Regions from separate parts of the Homo sapiens genome. Here region 1 is linked to region 2. The links come from fine-mapping of genetic effects on gene expression. A gene starts in region 2. The other region holds a variant in brackets. All regions are shown on one strand. Distances are between the middles of the regions. Region 1 holds the start of LOC124903282 (a long non-coding RNA gene). Region 2 holds the start of RNASE6 (ribonuclease A family member 6).

Evidence for each region. PIP is the estimated chance that this variant, and not a neighbour inherited with it, causes the effect.
Region 1: its variant is fine-mapped to the expression of RNASE6 in whole blood (TOPMed, PIP above 0.99). The same link has a PIP of 0.9 or more in blood mononuclear cells.

What each region holds. Positions count from the first base shown.
Region 1 is chr14:20,710,842-20,721,091 of GRCh38, reverse strand. LOC124903282 (a long non-coding RNA gene) reads left to right here and starts at 5,369. Exons shown (of 2, transcript XR_007064061.1): 1 at 5,369-8,011; 2 at 9,374-10,250. It also overlaps the pseudogene RANBP20P. The variant G/A (reference allele first, on the strand shown) is at 5,622.
Region 2 is chr14:20,775,070-20,785,319 of GRCh38, reverse strand. It overlaps RNASE6 (ribonuclease A family member 6), which reads right to left and starts at 4,052. Exons shown (of 2, transcript NM_005615.5): 1 at 3,982-4,052; 2 at 2,853-3,625. The coding sequence starts at 3,620. The coding sequence ends at 3,168. The region is part of intron 1 of LOC107984671 (a long non-coding RNA gene); the gene reads left to right. RefSeq lists enhancers at 2,908-2,977, 9,782-10,250.

The sequences.
Region 1 (10,250 bases), 64 kb after region 2:
AGCTGAGAACGTGCCACTGCACTCCAGCCTGGGCAAGAGAGCAAGACTCCGTCTCAAAAAAGAAAAAAAAAAATTGTGCAACATTGAAACTGATGTGCCATCAGTATTGAAACCTGACCTCATTGATGTACGTGCTCAGTCCCTGGCTGTGCTGCAGGCTTACACTCACTGGTTAGTGCAGTATTGCAGTGAAGCTCACCAGCAGAACACACAGCAGTTCGTGACACTCATCCCTATTACCATGAATGCAATCACACCTCTAATCAGCACCAAGTTCTCGAAGCAGCAAAGCCTACCGTCTACACCTTTTATCTAACTCTGTCTCTCCTTCTGTTCCTATACCCATTTATTAGAAAATCTAAATATGACACAGAGTTAGACCCATAAATCTTTCCGCTTTATAAAACTGTTATTTCATCTTCCTTTTTACTTGTAGCCCACATGCATTCAAATACAACTTTACTTTTTTGGTTATATAAGTTCCACATGCTCACTGTGAAAAACCAAAATATTGTTCAGATTTCCAGACTAAAAAGTTGTGATACCTTTGAAACATTTTCCTTCAGGCGGTACACACAGTTGGGCATTGGTTGTGCAGGCACACCTCGTTTTGTTGTGTTTCCCTTTATAGCACTTCGTAGATACTGTGTTTTTTACAAGTTGAAGGCTTATGGCAACCCTGCATTGAGCAAATCTGTCAGCGCCATTTTTTCAACAGCATTTAGTGCTTCCATGTGTCACATTTTGGTAATTATTAGAATATTTCAAACTTCTTCTATGACTATATCTGACAGTAATTTGTGGTTAGTGATCTTTGATGTTACTATTGTAATTATTTTGGGGTGCCACAAACTGAAGATGGCAAACTTGATTGATAAATGTGTGTGTTCTGACTGCTCCACTGATTGGCGGCTTCCCCACCTTCCTGTCTTTAGGACTCCCTATTCCCTGAGCCATTTAGTAACCCTACAATGACCTCTATGTGTTCAAGTGAAAGGAAGAGTCACATGTCTCTTACTTTAAAAATCTAGAAATGATTAAGCTTAGTGAGGAAGGCGTGTCAAAAGCTAGGATAGGCCAAATGCTGTTGAGCCAGTTAGTCAAGTTGCGAATGCAAAGGAAAAGTTCTTGAAGGAGATTAAAAGTTCTGCTCTAGTGAACACACAAGTGATAAGAAAGCAGAACAGCCTTATTGTTGTTGACACGGGGAAAATTTCAGTGGTTCGGATAGACCAAACCAGCCACAACATTCTCTTATGCCAAAGTCAAAACCAGATCAGGCCCTTCAATTCTCTGAAAGCTGAGAGAGGTGAGGAAGCTACAGAAGAAAAGTTGTAAGCCAACACAGGTTGGTTCGTGAGGTTTAAGGAAAGAAGCCATCTCCATAACATAAAAGTGCAGGATGAAGCAGCAAGTCCTGAGGAGAAGCTGCAGCAAGTTCTCCAGAAGCTCTAGATAAGATCATTGATGAAGGTGGCCACACTAAACAACAGATTTTCAGTGTAGATGAGACAGCTTTATAGTGGAAGAAGGTGCCATCTGGGACTCCCATAGCTAGAGAGGAGGAGTCAGTGCCTGGTTTCAGAGCTTCAGAGGGCAGGCCAACTCTCTTGTCAGGGGGCACCTGCCACTGGAGACTTCAGGTTGAAGCCAGTGCTCATGTATCATTTGAAAATCCTAGGGCCCTTAGGAATTATGCTGAATCTACTTTGCCTGTCTCTATAAATGGAACAACAAAGCCTGATTGACAGCACATCTGTTTACATCATGGTTTACTGAATATTTTAAGCTCATTATTGAGACCTGCTCAGAAAAAAAAGATTCCTTTCAAAATACTACTGCTGATTGGCAATGCACTTGGTTACCTAAGGCCTCTGATGGAGATGTTCAAAGATATTAATTTCCATAGTTTCCATGCCTGCTCACACAACATCCGTTCTGCAGTTCTGCAGCCCATGGATCAAGGAGTAATTTTGGCTTTCAAGTCTTATTACTTCAGAAATACATTTCATAAGACTATAGCGGTCATAGATAGTGGTTCCTCCAATGGATCTGGGCAAATAAATTGAAAATATTAATTCAAATAATGGAACTCATTTCACTGCACATATCATTAAGAAATTAGCCCAAGCACTAGACATAACGTGGGAATACCATACTCCTTGGCACCCACCTTCATCGGGAAGAGTAGAAAGAATAAATCAAACCGTGAAGAGTCACTTAACCAAATTAGTCTTAAAGACTCAGTTGCCATGGACTAAATGCCTTCCCATTGCCTTGCTAGGAATCTGAACCACCCCTCAAAAAGATGTTGGCCTATCCCCATATGAGATGCTATATGGGTTGCCCTATTTACACTCCACTGCTGACATTTCCACCTTCGAAACAAAAGATCAGTTTCTCAGACATTATATACTTGGTTTATCTTCCACTTTCTCTTCCCTTAGAACTAAAGGTCTTTTAGCACAGGCACCATCCCTGGAGTTCCCAGTACATCGAAATCAGCCCGGGGATCAAGTCCTCATCAAAAACTAGAAGGAGGAAAAGCTGGAACTGGCCTGGGAAGGACCTTATCTAGTGCTCCTAACTACTGAAAGCGCAGTCCAGACAGCAGAAAAAGGATGGACCTATCACACCCAAGTCAAGAAAGTGCCGCCCCCTCCAGAGTCGTGGGCCATAGTCCCAGGGGAAAACCCTACCAAACTAAAGCTAAGAAATTTTTTTTTTTTTTGAGACAGAGTCTTGCTCTGTTGCCCAGGCTGGAGTGCAGTGGTGCGATCTTCACTCACTGCAACCTCCACCTCCCGGGTTCGAGCAATTCTCCCGCCTCAGCCTTCCGAGTAGCTGGGATTACAGGCGTGTACCACTACGCCTGTATAATTTTTGTACTTTTAGTAGAGATGGGGTTTCACCATGTTGGCCAGGCTGGTCTTGAACTCCTGACCTCAAACGATCCACCTGTCTCGACCTCCCAAAGTGCTGGGATTACAGGCGTGAGCCAAGCTAAGAAAAATTTAACTCTCTTATTACTCCTTCTTCTTTCCTCATTCTATTGCTGACCACCTCATTATTAATGTAACAAAGTCAATTTCACCTCAAACTATTACATTTGATGCTTGCCTTGTTATACCTTGTGGAGACTTGTCAAGTTAAAGACAGCTCTCCAATTCAGAAAAGTACCTCTGTCCTTCCCGGCTCTCCTCAGACTGGACATTAGTGAATGGGGATCATTTAGTCTGGAGAGATTTCAATAAAGACCCCAGTATCAGCTGGGAGTCTTGCTCCTGCAAGACAGAGCTTTTATGCCACAGTTGGTCCAACATTCTGTGGACCACTAAAGAGCAAGGATGAGCTGCCCCAACCAGTGGTTGTAATTTCCTAAAGTCATATATTCACTTTACTAAAGGAACAGCTTCACCTAGCTGTCAGCTGAACCGTGCAATCCAATACAGGTTATTATCTCAAACCCTCAAAGCTCTTCCCCTTCTCTAAGCCGGTTCCCTTCTTTAAGCCGGTTTTATGGTGTGGGGGCTGAGGTTTCAGGAACAGACCCTATCAGATCCTTTGAAACACAATTCATTGATCCTCTGCCGCCTACACCTTCCCTTAAGCCTTCTTCCAGAAGCTCTCACAACAAAACTGTTGTTCTCCTCCATCTAATGACAAGACCAAGGTAGTTATTATAGAAGTTAAAGACCTAAAACAAACTTTGGCAATTGAGACAGAATATCAAGATGCTAATGCCTGGTTGGAGTGGATCAAACATTCCATCCACACTTTAAACAAAAGCATTTGTTATGCTTGTGCGCACGGCAGACCAGAAGCCCAGATTGTCCCCTTTCCATTAGGATAGTCCTTTAGTCTACTAGGCATGGGCTGTATGGTTACTTTTTTCCAGGATTACACAGCCTGGGGTAAAAAGTCGTGTCAAGCTCTCTCTGCTATATCCTGAGGTTCAATACCCTGCAGGTCAGCCCCCAAGGTCCACTCAGCTTCTGTCCCCTGACGCTAAGTTCACTTCATATCTCTCACTACAGGGAGGAAACTTAGCATTCCTTGGAGACCTAAAAAGATGCAGTGAGCTTAAGACTTTCCAAGAGCTTACCAATCAGTCAGCCCTTGTTCATCCCCAAGCATATGTATGGTGGTATTGTGGTGGACCTTTACTGGACTCTCTGCCAAGTAACTGGAGCAGCACTTGTGCTCTAGTTTAATTGGCTATCCCTTCCACCCTAGCATTTCATCAACCAGAGAGAGGAAAAATACAACATCATAAAACAAGGGAAGCTCCTTATGGGTCTTTCAACTCCCACATTTATTTAGATGCAATTGGAGTCCCATGAGGAGTACCAGATAAATTTAAAGATCAAGATTAAATAGCTGCAGGATTTGAGTCAAGATTAAATAGCTGCAGGATTTTGTGGGTGACAATTAATAAAAACATAGATTGGATAAATTACGTCTATTATAATTAGCAGTGGTTTATTAATTACACCAGGGATGCTGTCAAAGGGATAGCAGAACAATTGGGGCCCACTAGCCAGATGGCCTGGGAAAACAGAATGGCCCTAGATGTGATATTAGCTGAAAAAGGCAGTGTTGGTGTTATGATTAAAACTCAGGGCTGTACCTTTATCCCAAGCAACACTGCCCCCACTGGGAGCATAACAAGGGTCTTACAAGGACTTACTGCTTTATCCAATGAATTAGTTAAAGATTCTGGAGTCAATAACCCTTTCTCAGGATGGCTAGAAAGGTGGTTCAGTAGATGGAAAAGATCATAGCCTCGATTCTTACTTCTCTTGCAGCCGTAATAGGTGTACTCATTCTTGTTGGGTATTGTGTCATACCATGCGTCCGTGGGGCAGTGCAAAGAAACAGCACCTACTAAAACCTCCCTTAACTTTCCTCCACCTTATTCAGAAAAGCTTTCTTCTTTTAGAGGATCAAGTCAAGCAGCAAAGCCAAGACATGTTAAAAAGGTTTGAAGAGGAAGGCCTATGAAAATTGAAAGGGGGGAGATTGTAGGATACAGTAAATTCCTCTTCAGAGTTAGCCTGTTAACTTCCTTTAAAATTCAAGATGGTGGCTGGGCGTGGTGGCTCATGCCTGTAATCCCAGCACTTTGGGAGGCCAAGGCAGGCAGAACATGAGGTCAGGAGATTGAGACCATCCTGGCTAACATGGTGAAACCCTGTCTCTACTAAAAAATACAAAAAAATCAGCCGGGCGTGGTGGCGGGTGCCTGTAATCCCAGCTACTCAGGAGGCTGAGGCAGGAGAATGGCGTGAACCCAGGAGGCGGAGCTTGCAGTGAGCCTAGATTGCACCACTGCACTCCAGCCTGGGTGACAGAGCAAGACTCCATCTCAAAAAAAAAAAAAAATTCAAGAGGGAGAAAAAAATCATTTAAGTACAATGAGTTCTGAGTTCCTCTTCAAAGAACAAATACGTCAGTATGTTCAGCTTCCCTGTTCTTTGTTCTCCATTTTGAAGTTTAACTTCCTTGTTCTTTACACCTCCTTGCCTCTAGTTTCAGTAAACAACCCCCTCCTAGCCTCTATCACCTGTTCTGTCCTTAGGCATCCTTACTCTCCTGTTCTGTAACTGTCCTTCCCTGAT[G/A]AAACTACTCACCCCACCACTCCAGCTCATACACTCACTCTCTTTAAAATTTCCAACTGGAATTAGCTTAGACTGTGTGGTCCAACCCTAGCCAACAGGGGAAAGACACAGCAGTAGGGACTAGCTGCATTAGGAATAAGACGCCCTTCTCCTCCCTTGTCTGGTGTGCTCTCACCATTGCTCCATCTGAGAGATGCACCCTTCTATAGAAGTAAATTGCTTTGCTGAGAAAATTTTTGCCTGAGTGCTATTTTCACTCTGTGGCACCGAGCACTTACTTCCAACAGTTTGGTTACATTTTTTATCACCCAGCATGGGGCTATATGTCTCTACTGGTCTAGCGTGCCTGGTTTCCGATGGATGGAGCAATTGGCTGTGGCATCATGCCAGGGCTTACTCATTCATGCTACCAGGCAGAGCAACAACTTCTCATGAGGATTAGCTGCTCGTGGCTAGCTGACCTCCCAGCTGGGATTCTAGGGTTGTCCCAGCAGCTGCCAAGAACATCTTTTCCCTCCTTCCCCCTCTGTGGCATCAGCTGCCTGCAATGCTTTATTAGTATAAGGAAAATGATAGTTGAGGAAGTTGACAGGATTCAAGACTGGGTAAATCAAACCAGTTTGCATGCTAGAAATCCTCTGTCTCTGCCATTTGGGCTTTATGCCATTTGGACCTGACACAGGTCTTTTGCAGTATCAGTTAGCCTAAGATTTATTAACTTCCCAGTCTCCTTCTACAGGAATTGGTTCAGGAGTACTCTGTGTTGATCTGTGTGTTTGTGTTCTTTTGATCTCTCCCCTGAGAATGGGCAACTTGACTTCCATTCCATCTAAGTGGCCATTGGGCTGTATATTGGCTTATTGGAAAGCTTATAGCTATGAACTCATAACAAAAAAGATAATGATTTTTTTTCATTGTAACACTGTTTGGCCTATGTATGTGTTGGAATCTGAAAAATGGTGGCTACTGAACAGTGATTTACATTAGTACACCTTATTACAGTTGGCGTTATTTTGCCTAAGATCTGGGAAATGAAATGAGATTCCATGTGTTTAAGCATTTATTACATAACAAAGACTCAGCACATGAGGGGTCTATGTGAATGACGTAGAGAAAAGGGAAAAAGAGATTTCTCTTTCCAGATAGTAAGACCCAAAAGGAAGAGGATATTGATGATATGGGCCTCATAAATATCTTAAATTTCCCCTCCCATGTGGTACTGGGGGCACCAGCCCTCCCAGGATTACCAAATGTAGCCCAGGACCCGGAGAGGCCAAGGTGTCAGCTCCTCTCCCCAGGATGGGGAAGGAATAGAAATGGCTGCTCCACTTGCAGATTTTACTTGGGACCCCAACAATGGAGGAATGGCCCTGTCCAGTCATTATAAAAAGCATGTGTTGGCAGGGTTAAAGAGAAGAATGTAAAAGAGCTTAAATAAAGCCAGGGCAGTTCTCCCAAAGGCAGATGAGAACCCCTGTGAATTTCTGGAGTGCATTTACCAGGTTTACCACAAGTGTATGGACTATGATCCAGAAGCTCCTGAGAATATGAGAATGGTAAACGTGACTTTCATCCAATATTAAACGAAAACTGCAGAAACTGGAGGGGGTATTTGGAATAAACCTTTCCCAACTGCTGGACATTGCCTTCAGAGTATATAATGCCAGGAAGGCCAAAAAGCTAAAGCAAGCCATGATATACTTGGAATTAGTGGAAAGAATGTATATCCGAAAAGGAAAAACCAGGCACAGGGAGGTGGCCAGAACAAAACTCTAGGTAATGATCAGTCTGCCCCCTGCAAGGAGGAAGGTCATTGGAAATCTGAGTGCCCCAAATTAAAGAAAAGACAGGGAAACCAGAAGAAGGGAGACACAGTGACAGAGAAGAAACATACTGGCTGATGGTAAAGCAGGACTGTAGCTCAGATAGTGAAGGAGGCCCAAATCTTTTGGAGCAGGTTGTAATTTCCCCACAGGAACCTCAGGTACGATTGACAATGGGGAACAAATTGATTGACTTTTTAATCAATACTGGTGTGACTTATTCAGGTAGAAACACTAAAGAAACTGAAAGTACTAGGAAAACAGTGCCTGTGATGGTTGTCGCTGGCAAGATGCAGCAAACAGCCTTTCTCCAGACCCTGGAGAGTCTGGAGACTGCCGGACACAGAGATCTGGAGCTGAGACACAGTTTCCTCTATATGCTGGAATACCAAATTCCTTTGCTGGAGTGAGATTTGCTTTGTAAACTAAATTGCCATGTGACGTTTTTCTCCAGAAAAACAACAACTTCATCTGCAGGTCCTGCCAGAGCAAGCTTTGCAGCTGCAGATGCTGCTCACACACCCCGAGGAAGAAAAAGAATGCCTCCTGCCAGCAATCTGTGAGCAAGTAAGTAGTCATGAGGGCAGATGGGACCACAGGTAGTGCTGAAAATACACAGCCTGTGTGCACAGAAATAAATGAAGGGGCTAAGGTATTCCCCAAACACAGTGCCCTCTAAAAAGAGAGGCTTTAGAGGGGATACAACCTATATTACAGAAGTTTCTAAAAAATGGACAAATATGTCCTTACAGATCTCCATACAATGCCCCTATCCTGACTGTTAAAAACCCACACTCAAATGAATATTGATTTGTACAAGATTTGGGAACCATTAATGACATTGTTCAAGACATTCACCCAACTATGCCCATCCTTTACACCTTACTAACTGATAAACCAGGGCAGTATGGGTAGTTTTCGGTATTAGACTTAAAAGATACTTTTTTTTTTTTTTTTTTTTTTGCATCCTGATTGAAGAGAGGGACCAGATGCTGTTCACCTTTGAGTGGCAAGACCTGGAAACAAAAAACACCTTCCAATATTGTTAGGCTGTATTTTCTTAAGGTTTTAAAAACTCACCCACCATCTTTGGCAAAATATTGGCAAAGGGCTTCAGAGATTTTCAACTAGATGATGGGGTTCTGCTAAAATACTTGGATGACTTGTTAATCGCAAGCCAAGACTATGAGAGGTGCCTATCTAACACTATCTTAATCTTAAATTATTTGATATAATACGGACGTAACATATCACCTCAGAAAACTCAGATTTGTAAACAAGAAGTGACCTATCTTGGCTTCTGACTAAAAACAAGGAAAGCAGAGCTTGATGTCCAACCAGAAACAGGTGATAGCAGCAATAAAGGCCCCTGGGAATGGAAGACACTGTGGGGGGTTTTAGGTGTGGCAGGTTTCTGCTGAATCTGAATCCCTAATTTTGGACTCATAGTCAAACCTCTCTACAAGGCTCTAAAGGGATTAGATTCAGGAGCCCTAAACTGGATGGCTGAATGCCTTCAGGCATTTGATACCATCAAAAAAAAAAAAAAAAATAGTGTCAGCTCCAGCATTAGGACTGCCCAATTCTTGAAAGCTATTTAGACTCTATATCCATGAAAACCAGGGCACAGGACAGGAAATACTAATTCAACTACGTGGGAATTCCCCACAACCCATAGCCTACTTTCCCAAACAACTGGAGCAGATTACCAGAGGATGGCCACCTTGTCTTCAGGCCGTGGCAGCTACGTGTGATATCTTACAGGAAGCAGAAAAATTCACCCTAGGACAGCCCATTACTGCATTTGTGCCTTATCAAGTGTTAACCTTATTGTAACAAAAGGGAGGTTACTGGATGATAGCGGGGCATATGGGCAAATACCAAGCCAGCCTATTAGATAACAGAAATGTTTTCTCCAAACCACCACAGTCTTGAATCCTGCCACCTTGCTCCCAGCCACTGAGTCCAACTATGAACTGGAGCATAATTGTTTAGAAATTCTTGATGCAGTCTATTCCAGCAGACCAGATCTGTCAGATCATCTGATGGCCACTCCGGACTGGGAGCTATACACTGACTGAAGCAGTTTCACAGAAGGAGGACAACGCCAGGCCAGGTATGCTCCAGTGACCCTAGACAAAGTAGTAGAAGCCTATGTCCCCGCTGCTGGTACTTCAGCACAAAAAGCTGAATGGATTGCTCTCATCAGGGCCTTAAAACAGTCTCAAGAGAAATGGGTAAACATTTACACCTACTCCAAGTATGCCTTCTTGGTAGTGTATGCCCGTGGGGTCATTCAGAAAGAAAGGGGATTCTTAACCTCAAGAAATAAAGACATTAAACACCTGCTGGAAATTTTAGCTTTGTCAGAGGCAGTTGTTCTGCCAACTCAAGTTGCTATTATGCACTGCCAAGGCCACCAAAAGGATGACTCCCCAATAACCAAAGGGAATCAAGTGGCTGATAAAGCTGCAAAGCAGGCCACTCAAGAAACATATTTACTTGGGACCTTAATACTCCATTTAAACTTGTCAGAATTTAAACTCCACTACACTGAATGAAATGAAGAATGCACACATGAGTGGACATTGACCAACACAGACCCTTGTTCCTCATGGAAAGCTAACACTCATGGGATATTACTCTCTGAGGCCCTGGTATACCCAGTCCTGAAAGACCTGCATGAGGGGACACACTATGGCAGAGATGGACTGGCTCACCTGGTGTAGCCATATCTCAAAGGGCCACACCTTCAAAAGATCATTCAAAAGATTATACAAGCATGTTATCTATATACCCCAAATGA
Region 2 (10,250 bases):
ACAAACAAATTAGCTGGGCGTGGTGGCGGGTAATCCCAGCTACTCAGGCGGCTGAGGCAGGAGAATCGCTTGAATCCAGGAGGTGGAGGTTGCAGTGAGCCGAGATCCAGCCATTGCACTCCAGCCTGGGCGGCAGAGCCAAACTCCATCTCAAAAAAAAAAATAAAAGTAAAAACCACACTACTCCAGGCAGTATAAAATAGGCGCGGCAGGCCAGAGGTCTGCAGATGTAGTTTGCTTACCCCTGCATCAACAGTTGTTACCAATATTTGCTGCCCATTACAATTACATGGGGATCTTTAACAAACATCCATTAGAGCCCAGGTCTCACCCCCAGATATTCATTTAATTGTTCATTAAATGTTCATAAAATTTATTTAGTAGATCCCGTCATTGGTATTTTTCTAAAAGCTCCCAGGTGAATCTAATATGAAGCCAGAGTTGAGAGCTGCTAGAACATCTGCTGAATTCACTTCTAAGCTTTGCCTGCTTTGGGATCATTCTGTATATTCTAGGGATATATCTAAGTGAACTTCTTAGCAATTATGTATTGAACTTCTGCAATACATAACTGCATGTAGAAAAGAAAATAAATCTATGAGAGATTCCATCCCAGTCTATTCCACTTGTTTAGAACTAATACCTTCTAAAAGTTTGGGCATAATAGATTGTTGAAAAGTTACCCTCATTGTTGCCTTTTCCTTGATCAGCAACAAAAAGTGACTCTAATTGTTGTTGGGGATAGGTTTGTCATGGGAGGGTGGGGAAGATTAGATATTGTTGCTGCAAATCTCTTCAAAAGATGGCACTCATTATATTTTTGTTTTTAACCATTTGTTACAAAATATTTGCAGTATTTTAGACCTCACAATTTATTTCACTAATTTTAAGTAACATTTCATGTTCCCTAATGTTTCTGACAGTTGAAAAATTTTTGCAGCACAGATGTATTCAATCCATGAGATACCTTTACTATATAAATAACAATAGCATGAGCAATTGAGTTGTTTGGTTTTACTAGATTACCTTTAAGAATCTCTGGCAATTTCCAGGTAATGTTCATATAAATCCATTCAACCCCTTTCCTTTCAGATGCTGCTACTTTCGTATACTTGTTCATACCAAACGTGAGCACAGATTCTCCCTGCCATTCCACCACACTTTACATGAAGACTCTGAGACAATAAAATGTAAATGCAACATGGCTTAAAGCTGAATACAACTGAAAGCTGCTTTGAGTTAGAGCACTCAAGTCCCACTGTAGGATTCCCTCTATAAGGTACCCACCTTCTTAGGTGCCATATTGCCCTGACCTGCTAATCTCTTCCCAATGGGAGGGCCCTTGATCAGTCATCACCCTGGAATCCAGGCTCCTGAAACCTCATATTCCATTCTTTGTTCCTAAGATATGACATAAATGTGTAGCGTAAAGGAAGGTGAGCTGAGTTAGCATATCTATTAAACTAATAGTCTGGCTTGGAAAGAATCATTTGCAGCACAGGTAATGAAGACACTACAATATGTAGCCTTTTCAAAAAAACTTCATTGTCTTTGGCTGCTACTTGAAGACTCATCACTGTACAAAGCACTTGGGATTTACACTGGCCCACTAGCCCAATGACTCTAGAGGTTGACAAGGAAACTGAAGTTCCTTCTGTGAAATGGCTTAGTTCAGGTTCTGTTCCAAAACCCCAATACTTCTGTGGTATTTCAGTATTTACATAGGACTAGAATGTTTTTAGTTTCCTAGTGCTTTTTTCTCTTTCTTTCTTTCCTTTTTTTTTTTTTTTTTTTGAGACGGGAGTTTCGCTCTGTCACCCAGGCTGGAGTGCAGTGGTGCAATCTCGGCTCACTACAGCCTCTGCCTCCCAGGTTCAAGCGATTCTCTTGCCTCAGGCTCCTGATTAGCTGGGATTACAGGCTCCTGCCATCATGTCTGGCTAATTTTTTGTATTTTTAGTAGAGATGGGGTTTCACCACATTGGCCAGGCTGGTCTCAAACTCTTGGCCTCAAGTCGTCTGCCTGCCTCGGCCTCCCAAAGTGCTGGGATTACTGGTGTGAGCCACTGCATTGGGTCTCCTGGTGCTTTTCTCTTTTTCTTTTTTTGTTTTTGAGATGGGAGTCTCACTCTGTTGCCCAGGCTGGAGTGCAGTGACACAATATTTGCTCACTGCAACTTCTACCTCCTGGGTTCAAGCGATTCTCCTGCCTCAGCCTCCCGAGTAGCTGGGATTACAGGCACTGCCACCACGCCCAGCTACTTTTTTTGTATCTTTAGTAGAGATAGCGTTTCACCATGTTGGCCAGGCTGGTCTTGAACTCCTGACCTCAGACGATCCACCTGCCTCAGCCTCCTAAAGTGCTGGGATTACAGGCGTGAGCCACCACGACAAGCCTAGTGCTTTTTTCTTGATCTATGCTTTCTATTTATCCATTTCAATAAATAATGGAGGATTGACCCTAAGGTTACTACAATGGATTATTATCCCTATTACTACTACTATCACCTTATATTTAAAACATTATCTGATTAAAAACGGAAACAAATAGAAAAGACATAGGATCCTTCAGTTGCCAGTGACAGAATCTATGTGTGAGTTATCATCAACTGTCTTTGAGGTATCAGTACTACCTCCAATTAAGCATAGACAATGGTTTCCAGGGGAATATATAAAGTCATGAGCAGAGTTTGAAGAAATGCTCCAAAGTCCCAAACGCTGTCCTTTCTTGTGGGCAAGGAAGTGGGGCCCCAGGGAGGCCTCAAAAGTTTTCTAGGGACTTAAAGTCAAAACAGTGTTCCTCTGAGTACCGGTCAACAATGCTTTGAAAGCGGATCTCAAACACACACTCATTAGAATGCAGCAGGAAGTGGTTTTATTGCTGTGAACACAGGGCAATAAAGCTTGGCAAAAGTTGCAGGGTTAGAAATCTGAATCTTTCTTTGCTGTCTTCCCTATTCCCTTCTCTCGAAAAGTACAGAACTACAAAGCAGAAAATAATCTTATTTCTTTTTGTCTCAACTCTGGTCTGGCATCCTAGGCACTCGAATTCTCCAAACACCTTTCTTCTTTCTTCTACGGGAACAAGAAAATCAACAAAAGAAAAGAAAACATGGATGCAATTGTAACAGAAGCTATGTCAAATGAAAGGAAATGCAGTGGATGCCTTAGAGAATACTATCTAAGTGTACAGGAACCAACTTGTAGGGGGGATCGCTCTTCTGAGGGGGGTCACAGGCAACAATGAAGAATTTGTACTGGGCAGCAGCACTATAGCGGCACTGGGGATACTTTCCTGAAGTGAGTCTGCAGTCAGTCATGTTGACAGGCTTTGAGCTCTGGTGGCAGTTGTGCCGACGATTTTTGCAGACAATGCTGAGCAAATCACAGACAGCAGCCACATTCTGGAAAGAGTCATGCAGAAAGGTATTTTGATGCTTACAGTGCTGGGTATAATTGTTGATGCCACTCATTGCCCTGTTGCATTGGAGAGGACTTGGCTGTATATGCTGAATTTCAAACCAGTGAGCCTTGGTGAGACGCTTAGGCCAAGCATGAAGTGGACACACTGGTCCCCATAGAACCAGCAGCAGTAAAAGAAGAGGAAAGCATAGCACCATCTTTTCTGTGTAGAAAGAGAGAAGATAGTTATAGTAGGAGAAGCAATAAGAGCAAAATTTTTAATCATAACTATTTAGATTTTTATTTTGCCTTTTAAGATTTTACAGCTCCCTTTAAAATCTTCTTTCTCACATAGTCTCACAATTCTATGAAGAACCTGAAGCCCAGGAAACAGAAATATGACCTCTCCTTTGATTGGCATATCCCATTTTCTTTCACAAGTACTCATGCATTTGATGGCTGTCATATCAGAAAGTTTCTTCCCTCTTCCCTCCTGAAATATTTACCCTCTATCTGACCACTACCTCCCAGCCGTCTTTACTGCTCTACTCGCTCCAGCCCTGAGGCTTTCTTTCTTACCTGGTCTCAGTGTTGGGGCTCCTGCTGAGAACAGAGGCTGTGATTAGTCCAAAGCTCAGAAGCTGTTGTCTGCCTTTCTTCTCTAACCCTTCGAGCCCTGTGTGTATAGGGAAGGGGAAGAAATATTCTGAGCTTTCAGAAGGAGAATCCTAGGGTTTGGCAGATTAACTTCTTGTGCAGAGTCTGGATTAAACTCTTAGACTTTCACACCTGTTCTTTAAAACAGTATCATTATCACATGTATACAGGAAGGCTAAACCAACTTAAAGAAACAACATGACTGAAAACTCACAGTTTTGAGGAACTGATCACTTCCTGATATGGAATGAGTGCTTCCTGCCTCATCTGAGGCTTCAGTGTTTTTTTTTGAAGCTTTATGATTCCTGTTTCTTAAGAGAAAATATGTCACATAAATATGATATAATGCCTGCCACATACTTGGTAATGTTGTAAGTTCCTACAACAGAAGTGAATACATTATTCATTTATGCATATACTTATTGGGCCAGGTACTAGGCTACACAAATTCAGGAGCTCATGAGTTTTTTTTTTTTTTTTTTTTGAGACGGAGTCTTGCTCTGTCGCCCAGGCTGGAGTGCAGTGGTGCGATCTTTGCTCACTGCAAGCTCCACCTCCTGGGTTCATGCCATTCTCCTGCCTCAGCCTCCCGAGTAGCTGGGACTACAGGTGCCTGCCATCACGCCCAGCTAATTTTTTTGTATTTTTAGTAGAGACGGGGTTTCACTGTGTTAGCCAGGATGGTCTCTATCTCCTGACCTCGTGATCTGCCAGGAGCTCATGATTTAATGAAAGAGATTAGAGACAGGCAGGTAAGTATATAGACAAGTAGATTATATTAATATAAATAGCACTTACAGTGTGATGGAGGACACTGCAGGAGGCTACGGGAAGATAGTAGAGGGGAAGGATTGTTGGAGGGCACAACACCTGAACTGAATTTTGAGGAATAATTAGAAGTTAGGTGAAGAGAGTGTTAAGCGCCTCCCAAAGACAGAATTGTGTATGAAAAGACCTGTAAGCCTGAAGAAGAAGGCCGAATTTAGGATATTTGCCTCTTGAATCTGTTCTTACCTTTTCACTGGTACTGCAACACCCTTATTCAGAAACTCATTGTCTTATGGAGGGCTCACATAAAAGCCTCCCACATGGACTCCTTGCCTTGTTTTTTTCTCCTTCCAATCCATTCTACATATTACTTCCAGATTAGTCTTTTTTTGAACAAGATATAATAGTACAACACTCTTGCCCCATGCTTTTATGGCTCCAAATGTCTGCAGAATAAACATAATGTCTGTTTATAGCAAGGTTGCAGGATACAAGGTTAATATACAAAAGTCAGTTGCTTTCTTATATACCAGCAATGAACAATTGCAATTTGATATTTAAAACACAATACCATTTATATTGCACCAAAGAAAGTGAAATACTTAGGTGTAAATCTAATACATTATGTAAAAATTGGTATGAGGAAAAATTTAAAACTCTAATGAAAGAAATTGAGGAAGCACAGATATTCCATGTACATGAGTAGGAATACTCAATATGTTAAGATGTCATTTCCTCTCAACTTGATCTATAGATTCAGCACAATCTCAATCAATATCCCAGCACATTATTTTGTGGATAGTGACAAACTGACTCTGAAGTTTATATAAAAGTAAAAGATTCAGGTTGGACACGGTGGCTCACGCCTGTAATCCCAGCACTTTGGGAGGCCGAGGCAGGCTGATCACGAGGTCAAGAGATCAAGACCATCCTGGCTAACACAGTGAAACCCCGTTTCTACTAAAAATACAAAAAATTAGCCAGGCCTGGTGGCGGGCGCCTATAGTACCAGCTACTTGGGAGGCTGAGGCACGAGAATCGCTTGAACCCGGGAGGTGGAGCTTGCAGTGAGCCGAGATCGCACCACTGCACTCCAGCCTGGGTGACAGAGCGAGACTCTGTCTCAAAAAAAAAAAAGATTCAGAATAGTCAACACAATGCAGAAAAAGAAGAACAAAGTCAGAAAACTGACGTGACCCAACTTCAAAACTTACTATAAAGCTACAGCAATTAAGACAGTGTGTTATTGGTGAAAAATAGACAAATAGGTCAATGGAACCAAGTAGAAAGCCCAGAGGTAGACCCACACAAATACAGTGAACTAATCTGTGACAAAGGATCAATTTTCAATTGAGAAAAGTTAGTCTTTTCAACAAATGGTAGTAGAACTGAATGTACACATGCAAAAAATAAATCTTTTCATAGGTTAGACTTCATACATTTTCATAGACCTGTACTTTATATCTTTCACAATTTTTTTTTGAGATGGAGTTTCGCTTTTGTTGCCCAGGCTGGAGTGCAATGGCATGATCTTAGCTCACCACAACCTCTGCCGCTCAGGTTCAAGTGATTCTCCTGCCTCAGCCTCCGGAGTAGTTGGGATTACAGGCATGCACCACTACACCCAGCTAATTTTGTATTTTTAGTAGAGACAGGGTTTCACCATGTTGGTGAGGCTGGCCTCGAACTCCTGACCTCAGGTGATCCGCCCACCTCGGCCTCCCAAAGTGCTGGGATTACAGGCGTGAGCCACCGCGCCTGGCACAAATGTTAATTCAAAATGGACCATAGACCTAATGCAAAATACAAAACTACAAAAATTCTAGAAAATAACATAGAAGAAAATCTAGGCAGCCTTGAGTTTGGCAATGATTTTTTAGATACAATACCAAAAGCACAATCCATGAAAGAAAAATATTGATAAGTGGAACTTCATTAAAATTGAAAACTTCTGCTCTGCAACAGATACTATTAAGAGAATAAAAAGATAAGCCAGAGACTGAGAGAAGATATTTGCAAAAGATATATCTGATAAAAGAACATTATCCAAAATATACAAAGAACTCAAAAAACCTCAACCATAAGAAAACCAACAACCTAGTTGAAAAATGGGCAAAACATCTGAATGGTATGGGGCAAAGACAATTTTTCCTCTCCCTCTGAAGGTTCAAAACTTCTGAAATGAACTGACAATAGACAGATTAACAGGAGAAAAAGGCATACAAATTTATTACTGTGCATAATCATGGGAACCATACAAATTATGAGACTCAAAGAAAGACTAAATAGTTGAAATTCATGTATTCTCTTCATAGGGGAGAGGAACATGGGGAAAATGTAGGCAATTTTGAGGAGTTTTAAATATTTTTTAGGGAACTGGCCCCAAATAGCAGACAATAGTTTGTAAATGAGTCTCTTTGGAAGCTGAATGGAAGGGTGACGAGTTATGGGAAGGTGAAGGGTGGAACTGCACTATGAACAAAGGTTGCCTTATTATACAGATAAAGTCTCTTAGGTACTCTTTTGGAGCTGCTCTTGGAAGAATAGATGAAAGGTCTATCTGAGTGTGGTGTGAAGAGACTTCTAGTCTCTTCTTTTTTTCAGGTGGCTAATATTTCCTGGTTATCTGATGAGATTTTTAGAAAGGGGGGTCTTAAGACAATTGCATTTCTTGGAAGAAGTTTTCCTTATCCAGACAAGGGAACTTCCAGAGAGAGCTCCTCTCTGCATTTGAGAGCTGGGGGAGGAATGAGAGAAGATTAGAACATCTTTGGTCCTGAGGCAGCTTCTAAGAAGTTTTGGTTTCTTTAATTCTTTAATTCTAGTTAAATTTAATTCTTTAATTTAATTTCTTTAATTCAAAAGTGCTCAGAATGCCATGCATCATAGTTTGTAGTATGATTCTCTGTACCCCAACACTTCACCAAACAAGATATACAGATGGCAGATGAGCAATGAAAAGATGTTCAGCATCACATTGTTTGGAGAAAAACTTTTCCTCTATCATTTTAGGTTTTAAAGGTGGTGGTAAAGGAGCTTGTGAATTAGAAAAAGATTAATAGGAGAAAATTCAAAGTTTATTTACACATGCACACAGGAGTATTACATAATGCGTAACTTGCTGAATAGCCAGAGGTAAAGTTATATATCAACTTTAAAAAAAGTGTTTTTGGCCAAGTGCAGTGGCTCATGCCTGTAATCCTAACATTCTGGGAGACTGAGGCAGGAGGATCACTTGAGGCATGGAGTTTGAAACCAACAGCATAGCAAGACCCCCATCTCTATTTTTTAAAAAAAGATTTGGCCGGGCATGGTGGCTCACACCTGTAATCCCAGCACTTTGGGAGGCCAATGTGGGCAGATCACCTGAGGTCAGGAGTTTGAGACCATCCTGGCCAACATGGTAAAACCCCGTCTCTACTAAAAATACAAAATTTAGTCAGGCATGGTGGTGGGCACCTGTAATCCCAGCTACTCGGGAGGCCGAGGCAGGAGAATCTCTTGAACCTGGCAGGCGGAGGTTGCAGTGAGACAAGGTTGCGCCACTGCACTCCAGCCTGGGCAACAAGAGTGAAAGTCTGTCTCAAAAATAAAATAAAATAAAAAATAAAAGATTTTTGTTGGGGCTTCAAAAGGAAAATATGGAAGGTTCTAGTAAGCTTTCTGATGCTAATAGAAATGGGTAGATTGATTTCTTCCTGGCTGGAAGTTTCCCTGTATGGGGGTTTATGGAAGCTAATTTACACATCCCAGTGCTAAGGGGCTGTCTCGTTTCAAACAGGAAAATACCTTTGAAGGGGATCAATGGCAGCTGAATTTTCAAGAGGCTCTGGTTAAGTTTAAATAGTGTTTCTTTCTGCAGCTTCTGTCTGTTCAGACATTTTCAGTTTAAAATAATTTTCATGCCACTATCATCATAACAGATTTGTTACTTGATGCACAACAAATGGATATATTAAGAAAACAGGGATTGAAAAAGAGAGAGTTTAATTTTCATAGGGCAGCCAAATGAGTAGATGGGAGGTAACCTACAATTTGGTTTTGGGTTTGGGGATAGGGTTTTTAAGGAGTCTGGACAAGGGCCAAAATGTGAGCATTTCTGATTCATCAAGAAGTGAGAGGTGAAGTCATGGGACAGGGACATGAAGAAACTCAGCATTCATGTGCCAAGCCAGTTCCTTGGTAGGGGTCTTTAGACTGGTTAGCATTAGCTGTTGCACTGGAATTCAGGATCAGAAAAACACCTTAAGCAATTCTTAAGCAAAAAGATTTCATGATTCTAGTATTGGAGATTCTACCTATAGGAACAATCGGGGAGTAGGTGGTCAGCATGCTACTTGGGAAATTAGAAGCTACAGGGAAGTGGGTTGAAGTGTACCAGCATGCTATGATTAATGTGCAATTCTGCCTAGAGCCTGGCTTGCAACACTCCATAACTCTGCAAGGGCAGTTTTGCCATATTGGTGGGCTGTGAATCCCTTCAATCTGTCATTAGAAAATTGCAAATTAAAACAATGGGATAATACTACACACCTACATGAATGACTAAAATGCAGTGAAAACTGACATCATCAAAGCCAGTAAGGATGCAGAGCAGCAAAAATGCTAATTGACAGGACTTTCAACCTGGAGGCATATTTTGGGGTGACATATTCTTGTTTCCTATGAGACTTCAGTTAGGCTAGCTTGGATCTCATAACCATCGCTTGGCTCAGTAGAGGGGACTGCAGACCTTAGTGGACAGCCTCACCAATACTACACACAAAAGAGGAAGGGTAGATACCTAAGGAGAGTCAATATGCAGCTATCCAAATAAGGGGTGGACCACCGGGAAAGCCAGAGAAACAACACAAAGCTATTACTAATTGCCCTTAAATCTACTTTCCTCCTATACTATTTTGAACAACCATCTGCTAACCCTTTAATAAAAGCAAGTTTTAAAGAGTTACTTAAATGAGGTATTTGTGAGAATCTACTATAGGAGACCAGAATATGCCACCCCAAAATATGCTTCTTTATTATGAATATTATTTTGAACTGCTTATTTTGAGAAGCAGTATACACAAGACAAACTCTGAAAATAGAGTGCACGTTGCTGTTTTGTAAGGGACATTTGCGTTTATAAGGGAAATCTTCATTTGTAAGGATGTCTCCCTTTCTTCACCAGAAAGAGAAAGGTGACTCTAAATCAAAAGAAACCCTTATCAGCGGAGAAGGTACTGACTTAAATCTGCATGAGAAAGCTTTCCCTTGTTTACTGTACTTTTCCTGGTCATCCCCCTGTAAGTTGCTCCCCGACATGCTTCTTCCTTTGCTTTAGCGGAAGGCATTTAAGCCCAAGTTCTAGCCACCTCTTTGAGTTGCTTTCTGAATTTCTCTCATGTATGCATGAGATGCACATGTTACTAAACTTCTATTTTTCT